3 linked regions of the Homo sapiens genome follow. The protein of the gene in region 1 purifies or fractionates together with the protein of each later gene. This does not show direct contact. Each region holds a gene or a part of one and is shown in the gene's direction. Other genes may lie near its edges.

Region 1 (7,564 bases):
GGCCATTAAAAGTCAAGAAGCTCTCTCATTTATTAGCAAACTTTTCTCCTTATGATTCTATTTTGATTGTCCTTTTGTTTGAGGAAGCAGCATATGGTGGTTAAGAGCATAGGATCTAGAGGCAGATACCTCTGAGTTAAGGGTCCCAGCCCTTCACTTGTGAGCTTGAGCAAGTTACTGAATGCCTCTGAGCCTCTTTCCTCCTTTTGAAATGATGATAAGAATAGCAGCCATCTGAGCAGTTATTGTAAAGGTTAAATGAGATAATGCTTGTGAAGCACTTAGCCCATTGCAGGAGTCTTGATGACACTGTGTACTTGAAAATAGATGTTACCTGTTAAAATTCTTGTTTAAACTTCCACAACTCTTAAAACTCTTTTTTGCTAGTCCTTCCAGCTGTTTCCTTTAGTTTCTTTTCTGTGTCTTCATGCATCTTTTCTATCTCCTGAAAGTGAAAAGACTAACATTGGATCCAGAGCTTGAAAAGCGTTTTTTTCCTGTTACAATGGGCAAAAGAGTACATCCTTGGGTTATATTGGCACCTAGTATCAGTTATTTTTCTTGAGCATCTGATCTGCTCTCTACTCTAGTGGAGGCCTCCTGCTTCACAATTGCTCACCCCTGTGTTTTCTCCCCAAATAGAATACTGAGTTTACTCTGGACTCTAGAGTCAAACATACACAGTATTCTAGTCTTACTGTTCATTTAAGCAAGATATGTGCAAGACACTGCATTCTTAGTACTGGCAGTAAGTTAAAACATTTTTCGTCTTGATGCCAAAGTTTAGACAATTTTATAAAAATTAACCTTTGTAAAAGATAATGAGTTGATAAAATATTCTCAGTAAAGCAGCTACGTGGTAGAAAAACTGTCCTTTGCTTATGAGTTTCTCCAGAGTTAAGACCATTGGGTTCCATCTGAAGGCAAGACTTCAAGCTTGTCTTACTGGTCTGTTTTGTGGCTCAATTTGTATGAAGTCTATGCACTCTTCCACACGTGTGTATTTACTGAACTATCGAGTTATTTTAGACTGAGAAAGTATTGGAGTTCATTCCTACGGTCCACTGCAGAGCACCTTGTGCAGTTTGGAGAATGTCAACTTTTCTACCTGTTAACTTCCATTGTCTTTACTTTTAACGCCATTGTCTGTGACTCTAATGGTGTCACGGCTCAGGGTTTAGATTTTGTGGTTACATTCTATTCTTGTATGTCAAGAGTGGTGTATAGAAAGCTGAGGGGGATTATTTAGTCTCTTGACTGATTTTTTTTTTTTTTCTGAAGAACTCAGTTTATTATGTTTGGTGGTGAAATAAAAATTGATGTGCATGGATGTTAAAGATTTGGGTTAAATTGTGTGTTCATAGATGCCTTCTCTTAGTATATAATTTTTTAAATTTAGATACTTAAAATACTGTATCCCTTTATCTAAGATTAACATAAGTCTGTTTCTTAACCAGGATAAAAAAATCTAAATTTAAATGTGATGTTGGATGAGTTTCCAATCAAGAAATTGATTTTTTAAACTTTGTGACTAGTTATCCAGTGGGTGGATTTTACCCAGTGTGTGTATGTGTTTTCTGCTTAACTCTGGAAGGTTAGAAAGAGAATTTGAAACTAAGACAAGCCAAGCTTCTTGTTGCTCAGTATTTTTGGTAAAAATATGGTCAGATTGTTTAAATTAACTATAGGCTTTGGAATTTTAAAAATAATTATATCTCTTGGTCTCTTGACACATCAAGAATTAACTGTTTTGTATATGCGTTGAGTATTAATGTTCATGTTTTCTGCAGTAGAAATTTATAAACCCTTATTTATTTGCCAGACATGATCCCTTTAGAGAAATCTAGTATCTAAAACCTGAATTTTTAAAACAAAATTTAAAATTTTTGTTTCATAAAAACAAAAATGTGATTACCTCATGGCTTTTTTCTTATAGCTTTTGATTGTTTTTTAAAATCGTAGTTCAAAAACATTAACCTAAAATTTACCATCTTAACCATTTCTAAGTACTGTTCAGTAGTGTTAAGTATATTCACATTGTGCCACTAACTTCCAGAACTTTTTCATCTTGCAAAGCTGAAATCTTACCCATTAAACAACTCCCAATTTCCCCCTCTCCTCAGCCTCTGGCAACCACCATTTTACTTTCTGTTTCTGCAAATTTAACTACTCTAGATGCCTCATATAAATAGAATTATAGGGTTTTAATATTTTTGTGATGGGCTTATTTCACTTTGTGTAATGTCCTCAAGGTTCATCCATGTTGTAGCATGTGTCAGAATTTCCTTCCTTTTTGAGTCTGAGCAATATTCCATTATATGTTCCATATTTTGTTTCTCCATTCATCCAGCAACGGACACTTGGGTTGCTTCCACATCTTGGTTATTGTGCTGCTCTGAACATGAGTCTGCAAATCTCTCTTTGAAGCTTTCACTTTTTTTGGATACATATCCAGAAGAGGGATGCTGGATCATATGGTAACCCTTTTTAATTTTCAAGGAACCACCATATTGTTTTCTATAGCAGTTGCACCAGTTTACATTCCCACCAACAGTGCACAAGGGTTCCTATTTCTCCACATCCTTCTAAACACTTGTTTTCTTTCTTTCCTTCCTTCTCTTCTCTTTCTTTCTTAGCCATCTAATGTGGCAAAGTGGTAGCCATCTAATATGTTGAAGTGATTGTTTTTAAGGGCTTGTTTGTGGATAATTAACCAGCTGAAAGCTAACTACAGTTTGCCAGTGGAAGCTTTAACTGAAAGGAGAGTAAGTACCTCTAAAAGGAGAATTCAATTTTTCTAGTGACTTAGATTTGTTATGCCAGTACTTTTTCACAGAAACACTTTTTGGGTAAAATAGTGTACACCTGTTCTATTGTTGATAAAGCCCAATTTAATTAGGAAATTTGTTCTCTAAGATTTAAAACAATAATTGAAATAATGTATTTTTATTAAAAACTGTTCCCAAGATGTTAGCTTTTAGCTGTTCTGGTGATCTCAACTGTTATTTATGAGTGTTTCTTTATTTTAAAATTTCACCTTAACCGGTTACAGTTTTAACCATAAAGATTATTTCAACATATGATTTTGAAAATTTATTATCTTGTAAATGGGAAAATGTAGTGATGGAACATAGTTTACTGTATGTAGTTCTTCACTTGTTTGAAAAGTCACAATATATTTAGGCAAATTAATTTAAAAGTGTCTAGTATTTAATATTGCAATTTTCACTCATTAAGGACAGGTCCCCCGTGTTTCCCCCTTTTTTTTTTCCAAGTAGTTTGGGAGGATTTGTTTTTCCAGCTGAAAAATACTATGGTTAAAAATAAGGTTTAAAGGCGAAAGTTGAAGTCTTTGAGGGTTGGGATACGTTTCTGTTCTTAAGAGTCTTGTAAATTCAGATGCTAAGCAAATTTCTTTAAAATGATTTCTACCCTCCCCCTTTCCATTATAAAACTGGATATGTTTCAGTGGACCAAATCCCAAGTAGGCTGAATTTGAAATTTGTGGGCTGGGCGCGGTGGCTCATGCTTGTAATCCCAGTACTTTGGGATGCCGAGGTGGGTGGATCACCTGAGGTCAGGAGTTCGAGACCAGCCTGGCCAACATGGTGAAACCCCATCTCTACTAAAAATACCAAAATTAGCCAGGCGTGGTGGCGGGTGCCTGTAATCCCAGCTACTTAGGAGGCTGAGGCAGGAGAATTGCTTGAACCTGGGAGGCGGAGGTTGCGGTGAGCCAAGATCGCCCCATTGCACTCCAGCCTGGGTGACAGAGCAAGACTGTGTTTCAAAAAAATTAAAAAAGAAATCTGTGGTGTGAATACTGGTACGTGGTGTACACAGTGAGCTCTTAATAAGTATTTGAATTAACAAATGAGACAATGATTGAATAATTGGATGAACAAAGAGAATGCAGGTTTTTAAAAGGTTTCTTTAGAAATATTGTCGGCCCGGCACGGTGGCTCCTGCCTGTAATCCCACCATTTTGGGAGGCCGGGGCAGGTGAATCACCTGAGGTCAGGAGTTCAAGACAAGCCTGACCAACTTGGAGAAACCCCGTCTCTACTAAAAATACAAAAAAAAAAAAAAAAAAATAGCAGGATGTGGTGGCACATGCCTGTAATCCCAGCTACTCGGAGGCTGAGGCAGGAGAATCGCTTGAACCTGGGAAGCAGAGGTTGCAGTGAGCCAAGATCGCGCCACTGCACTCCAGCCTGATGACAGTGTGAGATGCTGTCTCCAAAAAAAAAAAAAAAAAATTAAAAAGAATGTTTTAATTCTTTAGTTCCCTGTCTGAGATTCACTGATTGGTAAGAAGAAAGTTAAAGAATCTCCTTTGACTTTTTTTGATATAGATATTTAAATTCTATTACTTTATAGTAAGGTTGGGGTTTATTTTCTTTGCTTTATAATAGAAGAGCATTGATTATTCTCTTTGCTTTATAATAGAATACCATTTAAATAGGAGTTCCCTGAGTGTGTTTACAATCATTTGATCTGGCTAAACTATTTTAATGTTAATGAAATTTTAAAATTTTGGAGGAAAAAATTTAAAAACTACACAGGTGCACAAAGAAATAAAAATCACCTGCTTTTTCACTATGTAGAGACCATTGTCTACTATTTCTCAATTCTGTGTTACATCTGTATGTTAATAACTGTAGGATTAGGGACTGAGTACTGTTTTTAACCTGCTTTTAAAAAATTTACATCTACATTTTTTCCCATCTAAATAGTGAGGAAGAGTATCAGAATTTTGTAGGCTTGTGGTGATGGTTAAATTAGATAATATTAATGTTGGGTACTTAACATAATATATGGCTCTTAATACTCTCCAGATTTCAGATATAGTCTGTTTTACCATTACTGCCTTTTTATCAAACCTATTCTCAAAAAAGTGAGAAAAGTGCTGAGATTACAGGCGTGAGCCACCATGCCCGGCCTCATGGTTCTTTCTTAATAATAAATTAGAAGAAGTAGAATTACAGGGTCAAAAAGTATCCATTTTAAAGCTTTCAATGTAATTGCCTGTTTATCTTCTAGAAAGTTTGACCTAGTTGTATTTTAGAGTGTCATTTTCTTGAACTTTATCATCATTAAAGTTTTAAATTTGGAACACTGGCAATTTGATAAGTATATTAGGATTCTTCTTATTGCAAGTAGCAAAATACAACTCAATCTAGTTTAAGAGGGGAAAATGTAGTCATTGGCTAACACAATCTAATTTTGGTTTAAGAGACAAATCTAGAGTCTCAAATGATCTCAGAGTGTAATAATCCCTGACTTTTGTCTTGATATTACTTGGCTTGTATACCTTTGCTCTATTTGCATGCTGGCCTTACTCTGCCACTGACAGGCTGTCTGTATGGTGTGGAAGAGGACGGCTAGCATCCCCATACCTGCATCCATACAGTTTGTAATATAAAAAAAAAAAAAGTAAAAAAAACTCCCTCTCTCTTCTAGTGTCTATATATCAGTTTCCTAGAAGAAAACGTTTTGCCCTACTTGGCCATGTGAATGGAGTTCCCTGATTACATGAGTCAAATATGTCTTATTGTAGCATATTTGATGGTCTTCTTGTAGAATATTATCTTACTATACACAGAACTCTTGACCAGTAATTAATGGGCCATGAGTTTTTGTTGCAAGTCATTTGAATTCATATTCTATAGTTTTCTACCAAGTGTAGTCATTCTGCAAGCTGTTCTTGTCATGACTTTTGGGAAGTTGAGTATTTCTTCTATGGGTTAGGGTTTTCATCTCAAGAAAAAGATGATCCTTTTCTCTACTAAATATGTGTTAAGATCACACATTTTTCTAGATCGTTTAGCTCTACTGTGTGATCTTACACAAATTGCTTTATTGGGATGATAAGAATAATTGCCTTATAGGATTGTTATGAGAATGAAATGATACATCAACTCATATGAAACACTCAGAACAGCTCTTGGCACAAAGTAAGGGCTTAATTAAGTAGAAACTATCCATATATTCATAATATTATAGTATTGGTTAAGTTGTTTTCAACATTGTTTAGAATCGCTCAAGCCTTCTTTGTGATAATCTGACGAAGGCTATTCACCACCAGTGAGTAAATAATAGTGGCAGAATAGTTACTGATGCTTTTCCTTTACTTGGTTTTTTTTCCATAAACATCTGGCCTTTGCAGACTAAATACTGGTTTATGTATAGACATGTTATTCTAAAATAATTTTCCATAGTGGTAATACTAAAGGAAGAAAAATGTTCTCAAAGCTATTTATTTGGGATGTTAAAGGAGGGGGAAATTAAGAAAGCCTACATTTCCATGTCCTTTGTGTCCAGAATCTCATTAAATGTCTTTTAACTTGTTAGCAGAGGAAAGTTGGATATTGCCTGCCTTTGTAGCTAACATAGTTAAAATATTTAAATGGTTATAGTGTCAAACCAGTAGTCAAAGCCTTCACTGTGAATGGATGAAGGGATATTTTCTTGAATAATTTAAGTTGACTTATTTCAGTGGTTCAAAAAATTTCTTCAACGCTTAACCATGACTCAGGCACCTAACTATTATACTATGTCCTGTAACAGATTGTTGTGCATTCATTTATTCAACAGGTATTTGTGCAGCTAATTTATTGAGTACAGCATTGAATCGTTGATGGCTTAGGCCACAGTTGAACATTCCATTTTTTATGTTCATTCATTCATTCATAGCATATTCCATTTTTAAATTTTCAGTTCATTGCACTTTAAAGTTTGAGGTTCTTGCGAAGTACAGACTTTTGGGTTTAAGTTTTGTTATTTAATGTCAACCACCACAGGCGCATTGGCCAGTCTGCTTTTAGAATTTTCAGACATACATACACAAAACATTCTCACAAGACAATCTACTTATTTTCTTTTTTATTCCTGTGTTTCTTAACACAGGATTAATGTTCAGATCTCTTTTGGAGCAAAATAATCCTCTGAATTTTTGAGATGTACCCAGTGACCTCAGTCTGAGTATGTATACTGCATTAAAAAATGTAACCTTGTTCCTTTTAGTGGTCATTTGGTAACAGTTTGATCATAAACAAATGCAGCCTCAAACACAGAAGGCTTGAGGCAAGTATACAGAACTATGGAGAGATCATTTAGATGATGTAGAATATGCCTTTTCTTTTTTTACAATGCCACCAAAATGAAAACACGGTTTTAAAAATTCTCATAGAGTGTAACTTCAACACTGCTTTAACTCTATTAAACAAAGCACTGCCATGTTGTAATTCCTATTTATTACTCTCTGGAGTTGTATAAATTACCAAATCCGCCTTTTGTTTGATATCCTTTTCAAATATCTGAGGGTAGCTATCATGTTTCTTCCTTCTATTCTTAAAAAATAGTCCCAAATTTCTTGAATCTTTTAATTTAAAAATTATATATTGAGCATCTGATTTGTGGAAAGGCATAGGCCATATTAAAAATGGGGCTTCATATTAAAATGGGGAAAAGGGTGGAGATTCTCAGGTGGAATCTGAGATCTGCCACACACTAATAGTGTTACCTAACCCTTTTTAAAGACAAAGAAACAGGATCAGAAGGT
Region 2 (7,095 bases), on another chromosome or scaffold:
ATGGTGAAACCCCATCTCTACTAAAAATACAAAATTAGCTGGGCGTGGTGGCACGTGCTTGTAATCTCAGCTACTCGGGAGGCTGAGGCAGGAGAATAGCTTGAACCTGGGAGGCGGAGGTTGCAGTGAGCCAAGATCGCACCATTGCACTCCAGCCTGGGCAACAAGAGCGAAACTCCATCTCAAAAAAAAAAAAAATTATCGAGGACTTAGAAGAGCTTATGTTCATGTGGGTTATATCTATTGTATTATGCCATTCTTGTATTGTTATAATGAAATACCTGAGACTGTGTAATTGATGAAATAAAGAGGTTTAATTGGCTCATGGTTCTGCAGGCTGTACAAGAAGCACGATCCTGGCATCTGCTCAGTGTCTAGGGAGGCCTCAGGAAACTATCTATCTATAAATAGTTATTGTATTAGAAATTTAAAGGATAAAAATTTTTAAATTACTGATTAATTTTAAAAATAATAAACCAAACACATTTAACATAAATTGCATGCTTTTATGAAAAATAACCATATTTTCCAAAATAAAAAAAATTTGATCAGAGGAAAAGGATTGCTTTTGTATTTTTGCAACTCTCTAAATATTTGATTTAATAGAAGATAGCTAGGTTCTCTATGGTTGAAATATATGAAGAAACTCAGGCCTTTGAAAGAAAATTAAATAGTCTTTTTGGATAATTATGGATATTCTTCTTTGATACTATAGTGAAATTCAACAAGTGGTAATTTCTTCTTCTTTTCTTTTCTTTTTTTTTTTTTTTTTTTTTTGAGAGAAGGTCTGCCTTTATTGCCCAGGCTGGGTGCAGTATGGCGTGATCTTGGCTCACTGCAACATCTGCCTCCCAGGTTCAAGTGATTCTCCCACCTCAGCCTCCCAAGAAGCTGTGACTACCAGCACACACCACCATGCCTGGCTAAATTTTGTATTTTTTGTAGAGATGGGGTTTTGCTATATTGTCCAGGCTGATCTCAAATTCCTACACTCAAGAGATCTGCCCACCTCAGCCTCCCAAAGTGCTGGGAGGCATGAGCCACCAAGTCTGTCAATTGTTCTTTCAAGTAAAAATGGCCTTCCATTGTAATGGCCAGATGGGTTCTTCTTGGCTACTGCACAGACAAAATTCACCGAGACCAAGGTATTGCAGTAGAGAAAGTGTTTAATTGACCCAAGGCCAGTCACATAGGAGAACTGGAGTTATCACTCAAATCAGTCTCCCCCTGGGTTGGAGGTTGGGGTTTTTATGGACAATTTGGTGAGCAGGGGACTAGAGAATGGGTTCTGCTGATGGGTTGGGGATGGAATCATAGGGGTGTGGAAAACAGTCCTTGAGTGCTGAGCCTGCCTCTGGGTGGGGCCATAGGACCAGTTCTGAGTCATGAGTCACGAGTCCAGGTGGGGTCAGTCTGAAAAATATCTCAAAAAGCAATCTAAAGTTGTACAATACTGATGTTATTTATAGGAGCAACTGGGGAAGTCACAAATCTTGTGACCTCTGGCCACATGACCCCTGAGCAGTAAGGGAGTATATTAATAGAAATATGCCTACACTTTAGCAAAGTTCACACCCCTCCCATAATCCTATTCTTGCTGCTTTTCATTAGTCTTCCAAAGGTGGTTTTTCATCCCTAAGCAAGAGCAGGGGTAGTTTTAGGGAGGAACTTAGCTTTCAAGTTAAACCATAAACTAACTTCCTCCCCAAATTAAGTTGGCCTATGCCCAGGAATGACCAGGAACACCTTGGAGGTCAGAAGCAAGATTAAATCAATGAGGTCAGATTCCTCTTACTATCATGTTTTGCAAAGGCAGTTTCACCATGAAAAATGCAGGTAGTTCAGCCTGTAAGTCAACCACACAAGTGCTTTTCTTCAAGACAGCCATCCCACTTTGGCATGCAGAAGTGCATGTGTACTTCCCATTTCTTCACACAGAGTATTAGAAAGACTTGTATTCAAGGGCCAAAATTTAATAAAATTAATGCTTCCGCTTCATCCAGGATATTCCTAAATCAATAGCCTTAAAAACTGGGAATGTATGGCAGTGAAGAATACAGCGATCCAATGACCACCCGGACAGGTTGGTGGCACTGTCTTGATCCCTGCTAAGGCATCAATAGTGTCCGTATTCCTTTGCACCATCAGTACAAAAACAAACTCAGTCAAAAAGACAGAGGAGGCCAGGCATGGTGGCTCACTCCTGTAATCCCAGAACTTTTGGGAGGCTGAGGTGGGCAGATCGCTTGAGCTCAGGAGTTCCAGAGGAGCCTGGGCAACATAGTGAGACCCCATGTCTACCAAAAATACAAAAATTAGCTGGGTGTGGTGGCGCACGCGCCTGTAGTCACAGCTGCTTCGGAAACTGAGATGGTACACTCGCTTGAGCCCAGGAGTTTGAGGCCGCAGTGAGCTATGATCAGGCCACTGCACTCCTGCACTCCAGCCTCAGCGACAGAGGGAGACCCTGTGTCAAAAACAAAAACAAAACAAAACAAAAAGCAGGGGGGGCCTGACACGGTGGCTCAGGCCTGTAATCCTAGCACTTTGGGAGGCTGAGGTGGGTGGATTGCCTGAGCTCAGGAGTTCAAGACCAGCCTGGGCAATGTGGTGACATGGTGAAACCCTGTCTCTACAAAATACAAAAAATTAGCCGGGTGTGGTGGCGGGCTTCTGTAATACCAGCTACTCGGGAAGCTGAGACAGGAGAATCACTTGAACCCGGGAGGTGCAGGTTGCAGTGAGCTGAGATTGTGCCGCCACTGCATTCCAGCCTGGGTGACAGAGCAAGACTCTGTATCCAAAAAAAAAAAGGACCAGACATATTGCATTGTTAACAAACTAGTTGTTAACCTTATGACCTCTGTAAAGGTCTCAGGGATTTCCAGAGGTCTGGGGACCACACTTTGAGAATCACTAGATTAAAAGGGGGAAAACATGGGAGGAAAAAAAGGTCACATAATGGAAACATACTGTTGGATTGAATTTCGTATATAAAAACCCTTTACTGAAATAAAGAGTAGAGACTTCAAGTACCAAGAGAAGCAGATTAGAAGAGGAGGAAGGCTCTAGGGACTGATCAGGTCTGGAGGCAGGGTTTTAAATGGGCCTTGAAGGGTTCGTGCAGTTTGGAAGGAAGGGATGGGAGGGAAAAGCTTGCTGAATCGTATAAATGAACAAGACCCTGATGGTGAGCTCTTGAGGATATGAAAGGCAAAAAGCACTAAGGCCGGGCTTTTGTTCCTCTGTGGCCCTGCATATATGAGGAGGTGATGAGTAATTCTATATTTTTATCAGCTTTACCGTTTAAAACTCCAAGGGAGGAAAACCCTTCAAACTGATAGGCTTGGGGCTTGGTGAAGGTGGGGTATTAGTGAAAAAGATGTGAAGTTTCTTTATCGAAAATACATGTATGTCCAAGAAATTCTCTGTAGATAAAAACTAACAAGAAAAAGAGTTTGTCAGAGAGGAAAAGTAGTTTTGCTAATTTATTTTTGATCATTTGCAAAGCCCATGGAAGTGTGTGGCAAGAGGATTGTGGTGTCTTAGGATATTCACATAGGTCTGAAACAAGGAAAACATACTTCTGTTGAAAGCACCATTCCAACATATTGTTATTAGCAGTCCCTGAACTAACGGGTAGTGGGTGGGTACTGTGTCCATCAGCTCAGCGAACCGCAATTGCCTCATTGACAGCAAGCCCAGCAAGGAATCACTTGGAATATTAATTTCCGTGGCCTTTCGCAATCACACGAAGCTTGGCTCCCTGCGCTTGCCGTAACGCGGCCTGTACCATTGCTTTCCGGGTGGCGGGGGGGATTTGGCAGCAGCGGAAGAAGGAGACCGGAGGGTGTGTGTTGGGCAAAGCCGGAGGCAGAGGAGGACGATTGTTTTACGGATCCCGTGATCGGCCCGTCCTTCTCCCCTTTCCCCCCCTCCCTACCGCCCCTGTCCCGCCGGGGAGCGGCGGCGGCCTTGGACTTTGCTGTCTTTCCTCGCGGAGACAGGTGAGTGTCGGCGCGCGGGCTCCCCGGGCTTCGCTCCCCACCCCCCGCGTCTCCGGGGCCGGTGGCGGCGGCCGGCCGGGGAGGCGGCCTCGGCGCACAGTAATGGCAGCGCTGTGAGCAGGGGAACGCGAGCTGACAGCCGCCGCCGCCGCCGCCTCCGCCCACCTTCCTCGCCGGGGCTTCGTCTTTCACTCCTTCGGGCTGCCTCCCCCTCCCCTTGTCCCCTGCCCCTTGCCCTGCTTCTGCAGAAGGTAACCCCGCTGAGGGTCGGGGAGCCGGGCTGCAGGCGCCGGGAAACTTCCCTTCCCGGTTAATGGGTGGCGGGGCTGGGGCGGAGGAGAGGAGTTGGGGGCGACGAGGTGTGGGGAGAGGGATGAAAGGGGGAGGCCCGGGAAGATGGTATCCTGTAAGTGACCTCGGCTCCCCAGAGCGCTGACCCGTAAGCCCTGCCACCCCCTGGACTGGATCCCGGGCCTCCCCAACCCGATCTTGGCCGCCTCTCCCGCGGCCCCATTTTCCTTCGAAGGAGGGAAGGTGAGAGTGCGTGTATTCTTCTACATATTTACGTGCTCACACGAATACACAACTCTGTGTGTTTGTGTGTGTGTGTGGGGGGGGGCATCTCATGCATCCTTACCCCGAGTGTTTTCACTTTTGTTTCCGCAGACTGCAAAGATTGATAGCTTTGGGGAGGAGTATCCTACGTGCATGCTAGACTTCTTGTCTCAACCCTTAGGGTCTGGTGAAATAAGATCCTCACACGCTTTCTAGCACTTGCTTACCCTCTAGAGAGTCTGGACCATTCCCTACCATTACGTGCATGCAAATAAAACATCTGTGAATTGCAGACTGTTATTAATGTTAAGTCCACATCTTTGCCCCATGGATTAATATTAACAGTTGAAGGCCAGTACCCTGGGCGTTTAAATTTTGAAGATAAGATGCAAAATATTAACGTTCGCTATAGATTGTGACTGTTCAACATAAACGTCTTTGAACTAGACCTGGCCAAGCCTACCTTCGTAGTAAAGTATCGGAAATAATCACTTTGATCTGATTGACAACTGACTACATAATAATCGCTTAAAAACATTCAAAACACTGTTGCCTACCCTTTAGAATCTTACATTCCTTTTCAAGACAGACACATGAACAAATGAGCTATACTTTGCTTCTTTTGCCCTTATACAGTATCTGGAAGATCCTTCCAAAAGAGTCGCGTGAGATAAGAGAAGTACACAGTTTTTTTGTTTTGAGATGGAGTTTTGCTCTTGTCACCCAGGCTGGAGTGCAGTGGTGCGATCTCGGCTCACTGCAACCTCCGCCTCCCGGGTTCAAGCAATTCTTCTGCCTTAGCCTTCCATGTAGCTGGGATTACTGGCATGCGCCACCATGCCCGGCTAATTTTGTATTTTTAGTGGAGATGGGGTTTCACCATGTTGGCCAGGCTGGTCTTGAACTCCTGACCTCAGGTGATTCGCCTGCTTAGGCCTCCCAAAGTGCTGGGATTACAGGCCTGAGCTACTGCGCCCAGCCCACAGTGTTTTGAATTACTTGTTTTTTTCAATTGCTGTTTATGAGTTGGGGGAACATTTCTACAATGTGCATGCACATAGCGTGGGAAAAATTCCTTTTCAATTGCTTTTTGAGTATTTGGATGTTCTCCTGCATCTGAAATACTCTTCATTCTCCATCCTTGCTGGTGGCTTTCAGTGTTCTATAAATGTGAAGATTATCCATGTCTTTTACCCTCACCAGTTTGTCACTAGATTAAACGTTATGGACCTTCTTTAAAGTCATTTTTGCGTTGTCTGGCAGTTGACAGATATTTATTAAGCACCTGGTTTATTTGTCAAGCAGGGCTGCAGGCATTAAGGTTACAAGGGTAAACAAGACACATTACATTTCTTTTTTTTTTTTTTTTTTTTTTGAGGCGGAGTCTCGCTCTGTCACCAGGCTGAAGTGCGGTGGCACGATCTGGGCTCACTGCAACCTCCCAGTTCAAGCAATTCTCCTGCCTCAGCCTCCTGAGTAGCTGGCACTACAGGCGCACGTCACCACGCCCAGCTAATTTTTGTATTTTTAGTAGAGACTGGGTTTCAACATGTTGGCCAGGGTGGTCTTGATCTCTTGACCTCATGATCCGCCCTCCTCAGCCTCCCAGAGTGCTGGGATTATAGGCGTGAGCCACCACACCTGTCCAACCCATTAAATTTCTATCCTCTTGGAGTGTCACTTCTGGCTTGGGATGGAGAGACAGACAGTATATAAGAAATAATCTCAGAGAATAAGTGCTGTGTGGGAAATAAGGTAAGGAGTTGTGGTAGTGATTGGGAGATTACTTCAGATACTGTAACCAGAAAAGAACTTCCTGAGGTGAAGTTTGAAATTCTGAGGGAACAGTTTTCCTATTTTAGGGAGGAACAAATGGAAAAACCCTGAGGTGCTATCAAACTTGGATTGAACAAACTGAAATTGGCTTAAGGTGGACCCTAGTAAGAGATTAAAGGTGGGTCCTAGCCAGGGGCTGGATCATGTTGGCTTTGTTCTTAGATACATTAAAAGGCTTTTGGAACTCTTCTAAACTGAGAGGTCTGATTGAGAATCAGACTGTTGATTGGAGAAGAGAGACACAAGGAGACCAGTGAGAAGAGCAGTGGCTGTGGAGGGTTAAGGTACAAGTGAAAACGTTTTGAGATTTATTTTGGAGTTGAAGATACTTATTGAAATTGTCATGTTTTGGATGAGCATGCAGTTGGGATGGGTCAATTCTGGGTTTTTGGCTTCTGCTGGAGGATGATGATGCTGTGTACTGAGATGAAGAAGAGGTTGGGGGAAGCAGGCTGTTGTATGGGATGGGGTTGGATTGGACATGTTAAGTTGGATTTCGTTGTTCAAGTGGAGGTGAGAAGTAGGTGATTGGAAATAAGTGTGGAACTTAGAGGTTAAGGAGTGATTCAGCCATCCAACGAGGGCTTCTCAAGCACCAGCTTTAAACCAGATGTGTGGATATAGTGGTTAAAAAATTTCTGGCTTCATGGAACTTAAGTTCTAGTGAAGAGAGGAAAATGGATATGGAGAGTCATCA
Region 3 (7,000 bases), on another chromosome or scaffold:
AATTTTTTATAGAGACAGGGTCTTACTTTGTTGCCTGGGCTGGTCTCAAATTCCTGGGCTCAAGGGATCATCCCACTTCGGCCTCTCAAAAGCTCTGGAATTATAGATGTGAGCTGCCGTGCCCAGCCCAGGATCTTCCTTTATATGCTTTTCTGTAATTTGCACTTTTACCTTCATCCAGCATATCTTACTGCAACCCTTCCTGTGCAAGGCCCTATAGTGAGCATGTTGCACCAGCTTGCCTTAGGAGAAACTTGAGATACAGAGCCTGCACTGGAAATTTAGCGCAACTCTACATGAGAATGCCTGTCTATTCATATCCTCACTAACCCTGAGTGTTGTTAATTTACTGAAAGCAGTTTTAAATGCTTCCTGACCAGGGAACGAAGAAGCTTAAGTTCTGGGAATGGGAGGATAGAAGTGCCAGAAAAGAGCTCAGGAGTTCAGAAATCCCTGCAGCGGTCCCCCTCCCTCTCCTTTCACTTTCTGTCTTTCTGGTCTTTTGGTCTTTGTTACACTAGTGATAAACCATCAAAGAATGATGGAATGATGCTAACTTCTCTCTTTTTTTAATTTTTTTGAGACAGAGTCTCACTCTGTCACCCAGGTTAGAGTGCAGTGGCATGATCTTGGCTTACTGCAACCTCCTCCTCCCAGGTTCAAGCGATTCTTAGTCACAACCTTCCAAGTAGCTGGGATTACAGGCCCATGCCACCATGCCTGGCTATTTTTTTGTATTTTAGTAGATCGACCTGCCTCGGCCTCTCAAATTTTTGGGATTACAGGTGTCAGCCACTGCACCTGGCCTAATATCTCTATTCTTGGAGATAGATTTAATGAGCTTTTTCTCCCTCTCTATTCACTTATTCCTTGTGCATGTTATCAATATTTTGAAACATAATGTCATGTCCTTTGATCAGTTGAAGGCTGACATTGAAAAGGCTTATGGGGATTGGGTGTTGTGGCTCACGCCTGTAAATCCCAATGCTTTGGGAGGCAGAGTCGGGAGGATCACTTGAACCCAGGAGTTTGAGACCAGCCTGGGCAACAAAGTGAGATCCCATCCCTACAAAAATTTAAAAAACTAGACATGTGCCATTACACTTCAGCCTGGGTGACAGAGTGAGACTCCATCTCAAAAAACTAAACTAAACTAAACAGGCATGGTGGCACACACCTATAGTTCTAGCTACTCAGGAAGCTGAGGTAGGAGGATCACTCATGTCCAGGAGTTGGAGGAGGCAGTGAGCTATGATCATGCCATTGCACTGCACTAGGCCACAGAGTGGGACCCTGTCTCAAAAAAAAAAAAAGAAAGAAAGAAAAGAAAGGGCTCATGTAGTTCAAGCCCTTCTCTTCATGCAAGGGGATGCTAAGGCCCATGATGGTGAAGGGCCTGGCAAAGCTTGCACAGATAGTGTGTGACAGAGCTGGCTCAAACCCATCTTTGGGAGCTGTCTAATCTCTTTTTCTGAGTCTTTATGTTCATAGACAAGTTAGGATGAGTAAAGTAAGTGCTAAATTCCATATTTCGTGTTCTGCATATCTGGGCTCAGATGCTTGTCATTTTCCAGTGATAACTCCATCAATGCCTCCTAGTGGTATAAATTTTAATACTTCTTGTGTGCCCAGCCCCCTCTTAGAAATTTGAGATTTTAGGAAGGGACTAGTAATAAAAGGTAAAATAAATTATTTTCTGGCCAGGCATGGTGGCTCACACCTGTAATGCCAGTACTTCGGGAGGTCGAGGCAGATGGATCACCTGAGGTCAGGAGTTCAAGACCAGCCTGGCCAACAAGGCAAAATCCCATCTCTACTAAAAATGCAAAAATTATCCGGGAGTGGTGGTGGGTGCCTGTAATCCCAGCTACTTGGGAGGCTGAGGCAGGAGAATCACTTGAACTTGGGAGGCGGAGGTTGCAGTGAGCTGAGACTGTGCCACTGCACTCCAGCCTGGGCAACAGAGTAAGACTCTATCTCAAAAAAAAAAAAAAAAAAAAAAAGGCCAGGCGCAGTGGCTTACACCTGTAATCTCTCAGGAGGCTCAGGCAGGAGAATCACTTGAACCCGGGAAATGGAGGTTGCAGTGAGCCGAGATTGCACCACTGCACTCCAGCTCAAAAAATAAATAAATAAATAAATTATTTTCTTTTTTTATTTATTTTTTCAGCATCCACCCAACATGGTGAAAAATTCCTCTTTTCTTAATGTCACTGAACTGTAAACTTAAGATGAAAAATTGTAAATTTCATGCTATATATATTTCACCACAATAAAAAAATTCCTTGTTCTTATTGTAGTGGTCTCCATGTCTTCAGTATTTCCTTCCCCTTCTCCATCTCACCTGTATACATTCACTTTGGTAATTAGCATCTTTCTTAATTTATTGGCAGGATAACGTCATTAGCAGAATCTCAACTTCAGACCCGTCAACAAATTAAGAAACTGGAGGAGTTGCAGCAAAAAGTTTCCTACAAAGGGGACCCCATTGTACAGCACCGGCCGATGCTGGAGGAGAGAATCGTGGAGCTGTTTAGAAACTTAATGAAAAGGTAATTTAGCATCCTTGTCCCTTTCCCTCATCTAAAAAATACCTAAAGACTCACGTGGTAGAGTGAGAGGCGGGCTGACTTCTGGTCATGGCCGTGGCGCGTGAGCCCATCTTCTCTTTCCTCAGTGCCTTTGTGGTGGAGCGGCAGCCCTGCATGCCCATGCATCCTGACCGGCCCCTCGTCATCAAGACCGGCGTCCAGTTCACTACTAAAGTCAGGTAGGCCATGCCACTTCCATTTCCAGTAGAGATTTTACTGAGGGACACTGTTAGGGTGAGGGTAGAGTTGGTGGCCAGGGTCATTCTTTCCAGGTGTGGTGTCACAGGCAGTACACTGTTGCGGGGTTGAAATTTGTTGCCATACTATCTGCTTGCTCTCTGATTCTGATGTCAAAAGCAAAAGAGCAGTCATCTTTTTGAAGGTACCTGGGCATATTCCTATGATTGTAGACCTGGAGTCTCAGGCCACAGCTTCTCCTTCTGCCCAAGGGACAAAATAATGTCATCTATTTTCTGTTCTTTGAGGCTACTCTTCCCTGTGGATTTTAAGGGAAAGAGTAAGGCTTAGTGATGGGGAAGCTGAGAGGCCCCAGGGCAGGTGGGTGGTGGGCCTGTAGGGTGAGGTGTTACTTTCACACTCAAGTCAGAACAGGTGTGCTGGGGTTTTGACCTTCTGCAGCAAAATTTCCCTCCTCAGAAACTTAGTATGGTGTTCGGTTTCAGGATTAATAGAACAAAATGCCAGCTGCACAGCATGTGTTCCTGTAATATTTTTCATTATATGGCTTTGATTATCCTTTTGTGAATCTCTCACAACTTTAAGTTGTTAGTTCTTAGATGTTTTCTCAGTACCTTTGGCTTGAAGGAGTGATACTCATCTTTTGTTTTTGTTTGAGACAGGGTCTCACTCTCACCCAGGCTGGTGTGCAGTGGCATGATCTCAGCTCACTGCAACCTCCATCTCCCAGGTTCAAGTGATTCTTGTGCCTCAGCCTCCTGAGTAACTGGGAATAGAGGTGCGTGCCACCACACCCGGCTAATTTTTTTTTTTTTGAGACAGAGTCTCGCTCTTTCGGCCAGGCCAGAGTGCGTGTTGCAATCTCAACTCACTGCAACCTCCACCTCCCAGGTTCAAGCGATTCTCCTGCCTTAGCCTCCCTGAGTAGCTGGACCGGCACACTCCACCATGCCCGGCTAATTTTTGTATTTTTAGTAGAGACAGGGTTTCTCCATGTTGGCCAGGCTGGTCTCAAAACTCCTGACCTCAGTAATCCACCCACCCCGGCCTCCAAAAGTGCTGGGATTACAGATGTGAGCCACCACGCTCGGCCTTTTTTTTTTTTTTTTTTTTTTTGAGATGGAGTCTTTCTCTATCACCCAGGCTAGAGTGCTGAGGTGTGATCTCGGATCACTGCAGCCTCTGCCTCCTGGGTTCAAGTGATTCTCCTGCCTCAGCCTCCCAAGTAGCTGGGATTACAGGTACCTGCCACCATGCCCGGCTGATTTTTGTATTTTTAGTAGAGACGGGGTTTCACCATCTTGGCCAGGCTGGTCTCGAACTCCTGACCTTGTGATCCACCTGCCTTGGCCTCCCAAAGTGCTGGGATTACAGGTGTGAGTCACCGCACCCAGCCCTATTTTAATTTTTTTAAAGAGAGAGATAGGGGCCAGGCACGGTGGCTCTCGCCTGTAATCCCAGCACTTTGGGAGGCCAAGGTGGGTGGATCACCTGAGGTCGGGAGTTCGAGACCATCCTGACCAACATGGAGAAACTCTGTCTCTACTAAAAATACAAAATTAGCTGAGCGTGGTGGCGCGCGCCTGTAATCCCAGCTACTTGAGAGGCTGAGGCAGGAGAATCACTTGAACCCAGGAGGCGGAGGTTGCGGTGAACGGAGATTGCGCCATTGCACTCCAGCCTGGGTAACGAGAGAAACTGTCTCAAAAAAAAAAAAAGAGAAAGAGAGATAGGATCTCGCTCTGTCATCTAGGCTAGAGTGCAGTGGCATGATCATAGATCACTGTAGCCTTGAACTCCTGGGCACAAGTGATCCTCTTGCCTCAGCCTCCCGAGTAACTGCGACTACAGGTACATGCTACCACACCCCGCTAATTTTTAAATTTTTTATAGATGTGGGCTCTCACTTTGTTGCCCAGACTGTTATGGAACTCCTGGGCTCAAGGGATCCTCCCAGCTTGGCCTCCCACAGTGCTGAGATTATAGATGTGAGCCTGTAATTATAGACAGCTTGGCCTATTTACCTGTTGGAAATGAAGAATTATGAATTTTACATTTCTTCAAGAAAAGGTTATGGGAGAGTTACTGACTTTTTTTCCTTGGATTTTTTCTTTTTAAATAGGTTGCTGGTCAAATTCCCTGAGTTGAATTATCAGCTTAAAATTAAAGTGTGCATTGACAAGTAAGTACTCCTATCTTAGCTCTGTTTTTCAAATGAGGAATAGAAAAATGAGAACTTTGACAGACATCATTTGAACTAGAGACTCTGTCTTTATTCAGAGATCTTCATTTTGTGGACAAAAGTTTTCAAAAGCCTTGGGGTGCATTGTCATTTACGTGTCTGAACAAAGCCACAAAGCTGGGGGTACAGATTTGATTTGTGGTTGCTATTGTGACAACCAGTCCCTCTTTTCCTTGTTTAGTTTTTTACTTGTACATGTCATTCATGCATATTATATATAAGACTGAGATCATGTGTTAATTAACGACTGGGATACGTTCTGCAAAATGTATCATTAGGCAATTTTGTTGTGCAAATGTTGTAGAGTATATAGTCCTTACACAAACCTGGGTGGCAGAACCTACTGCACACCTACGCTATGTGGCAGAGCCTACTGGTCGTAGGCTGTAAACCTGTACAGTATGTTACTGTGCTGAATACCGTAGGCAATTGTAACACATCTCAATGAAGTAGGAATTTTTCAGCTCCATGATAATCTTATGGGACCACCATCATATATGCATTTTGTTGTTGACCGAAACGTCGTTATATATTCTTTCCATACATAGCATGTGGAAAGAATAGATCTCTTTTTTTTAATTGTTCCACACTTTACCATATAATGGAATACGCAAAATTTCACAATACCTTTCAGGATGTAAAATACATATACCCTTTGACGACATTAGAAAAGAGAAAATGTGGGCCGGGCGCGGTGGCTCATGCCTGTAATCCCAGCACTTTGGGAGGCCGAGGCGGGCGGATCACGAGGTCAGGAGATCGAGACCATCCTGGGTAACACGGTGAAACCCCGTCTCTACTAAAAATACAAAAAAACTAGCTGGGCGTGGTGGCGGGCACCTGTAGTCCCAGCTACTCAGGAGGCTGAGGCAGGAGAATGGCATGAACCTGGGAGGTGGAGTTTGCAGTGAGCCAAGATCACACCACTGCACTCCAGCCTGGGCGACAGAGACTCCATCTCAAAAAAAAAAAAAAAGAAAAGAAAAGAGAAAATGTGGCTGGGCGCGGTGGCTCACGCCTGTAATCTCAGCACTTTGGGAGGCTGAGGTGGGCAGATCACCTGAGGTCGAGAGTTCGAAACCAGCCCGACCAACATGGAGAAACCTTGTCTCTACTAAAAATACAAAATTAGCCAGGTGTGTTGGCGCATGCCCGTAATCCCAGCTACACGGGAGGCTGAGGCAGGAGAATCACTTGAACTCAGGAGGTGGAGGTTGTGGTGAGCCGAGATCACACCATTGCACTCCAGCCTGGGCAACAAGAGCGAAACTATCTCAAAAAAAAAAAAAGAAAAAAGAAAAGATAAAATGCATTCTTATTTTTAGTTGATGTAATTATGTGGAAATTTCATGAGGATGCACTGGAAAATAATGAAATAAGGGAGTTGACGAAGGTGGTAGGTTTAATAAGTACATATGCAATATGAAACATAGGTTCCCCTTCCTATGGGGAGGCAACCAACTGTGCCTGCTACGCAGAGGTGTTATGTTGCGCTGATCAACTGTAACTGAATAGTTTAAAGAAATGCCCAGGAGCACAGAGGTTTTTTCATGACAGTAAATAACAGGTGGTCAAAGTAGGCTTTTTGAAGAAACACAGAGCCTATTTTATTAACAACAGTCTGTGTTCTTACAGAGACTCTGGGGACGTTGCAGCTCTCAGAGGGTAAGTTCAGCCTAGAGGCTTCCTTTTGTTCCGTTTAACCTAACTTCATCCTCCGGCTACTTGGTCACCTACATAGTTGATTGTTCCCCTGTGATTCAGATCCCGGAAATTTAACATTCTGGGCACAAACACAAAAGTGATGAACATGGAAGAATCCAACAACGGCAGCCTCTCTGCAGAATTCAAACACTTGGTATGTGGGAGGAGCTCCCCTTCACAAAGGGCCTCTGGCTGCCGGAGAGGGCTAGGGAGAGCCTCACAGGACACCTGCCTTTTTCTTTTCTTACAGACCCTGAGGGAGCAG

The links. Proteins that work in one complex are often made in the same cells at the same time.
Region 2: the proteins of HIF1A (region 1) and CUL2 purify together in Homo sapiens (affinity purification with western blotting; 7 studies listed by BioGRID and IntAct, with this or other methods). This does not show direct contact.
Region 3: the proteins of HIF1A (region 1) and STAT3 purify together in Homo sapiens (affinity purification with western blotting; 4 studies listed by BioGRID). This does not show direct contact.

What each region holds. Positions count from the first base shown.
Region 1 is NC_000014.9:61,698,199-61,705,762, forward strand, and holds part of HIF1A (hypoxia-inducible factor 1-alpha), read left to right. Parts: intron 1-7,564.
Region 2 is NC_000010.11:35,087,342-35,094,436, reverse strand, and holds the start of CUL2 (cullin-2), read left to right. Parts: upstream 1-4,095; 5' UTR 4,096-4,258; intron 4,259-4,435; exon of another isoform or gene 4,436-4,541; intron 4,542-7,095.
Region 3 is NC_000017.11:42,329,443-42,336,442, reverse strand, and holds part of STAT3 (signal transducer and activator of transcription 3), read left to right. Parts: intron 1-2,393; coding exon 2,394-2,552; intron 2,553-2,677; coding exon 2,678-2,770; intron 2,771-4,911; coding exon 4,912-4,971; intron 4,972-6,651; coding exon of another isoform or gene 6,652-6,666; coding exon 6,667-6,696; intron 6,697-6,795; coding exon 6,796-6,889; intron 6,890-6,985; coding exon 6,986-7,000. UniProt on the Homo sapiens protein: Signal transducer and transcription activator that mediates cellular responses to interleukins, KITLG/SCF, LEP and other growth factors. Once activated, recruits coactivators, such as NCOA1 or MED1, to the promoter region of the target gene.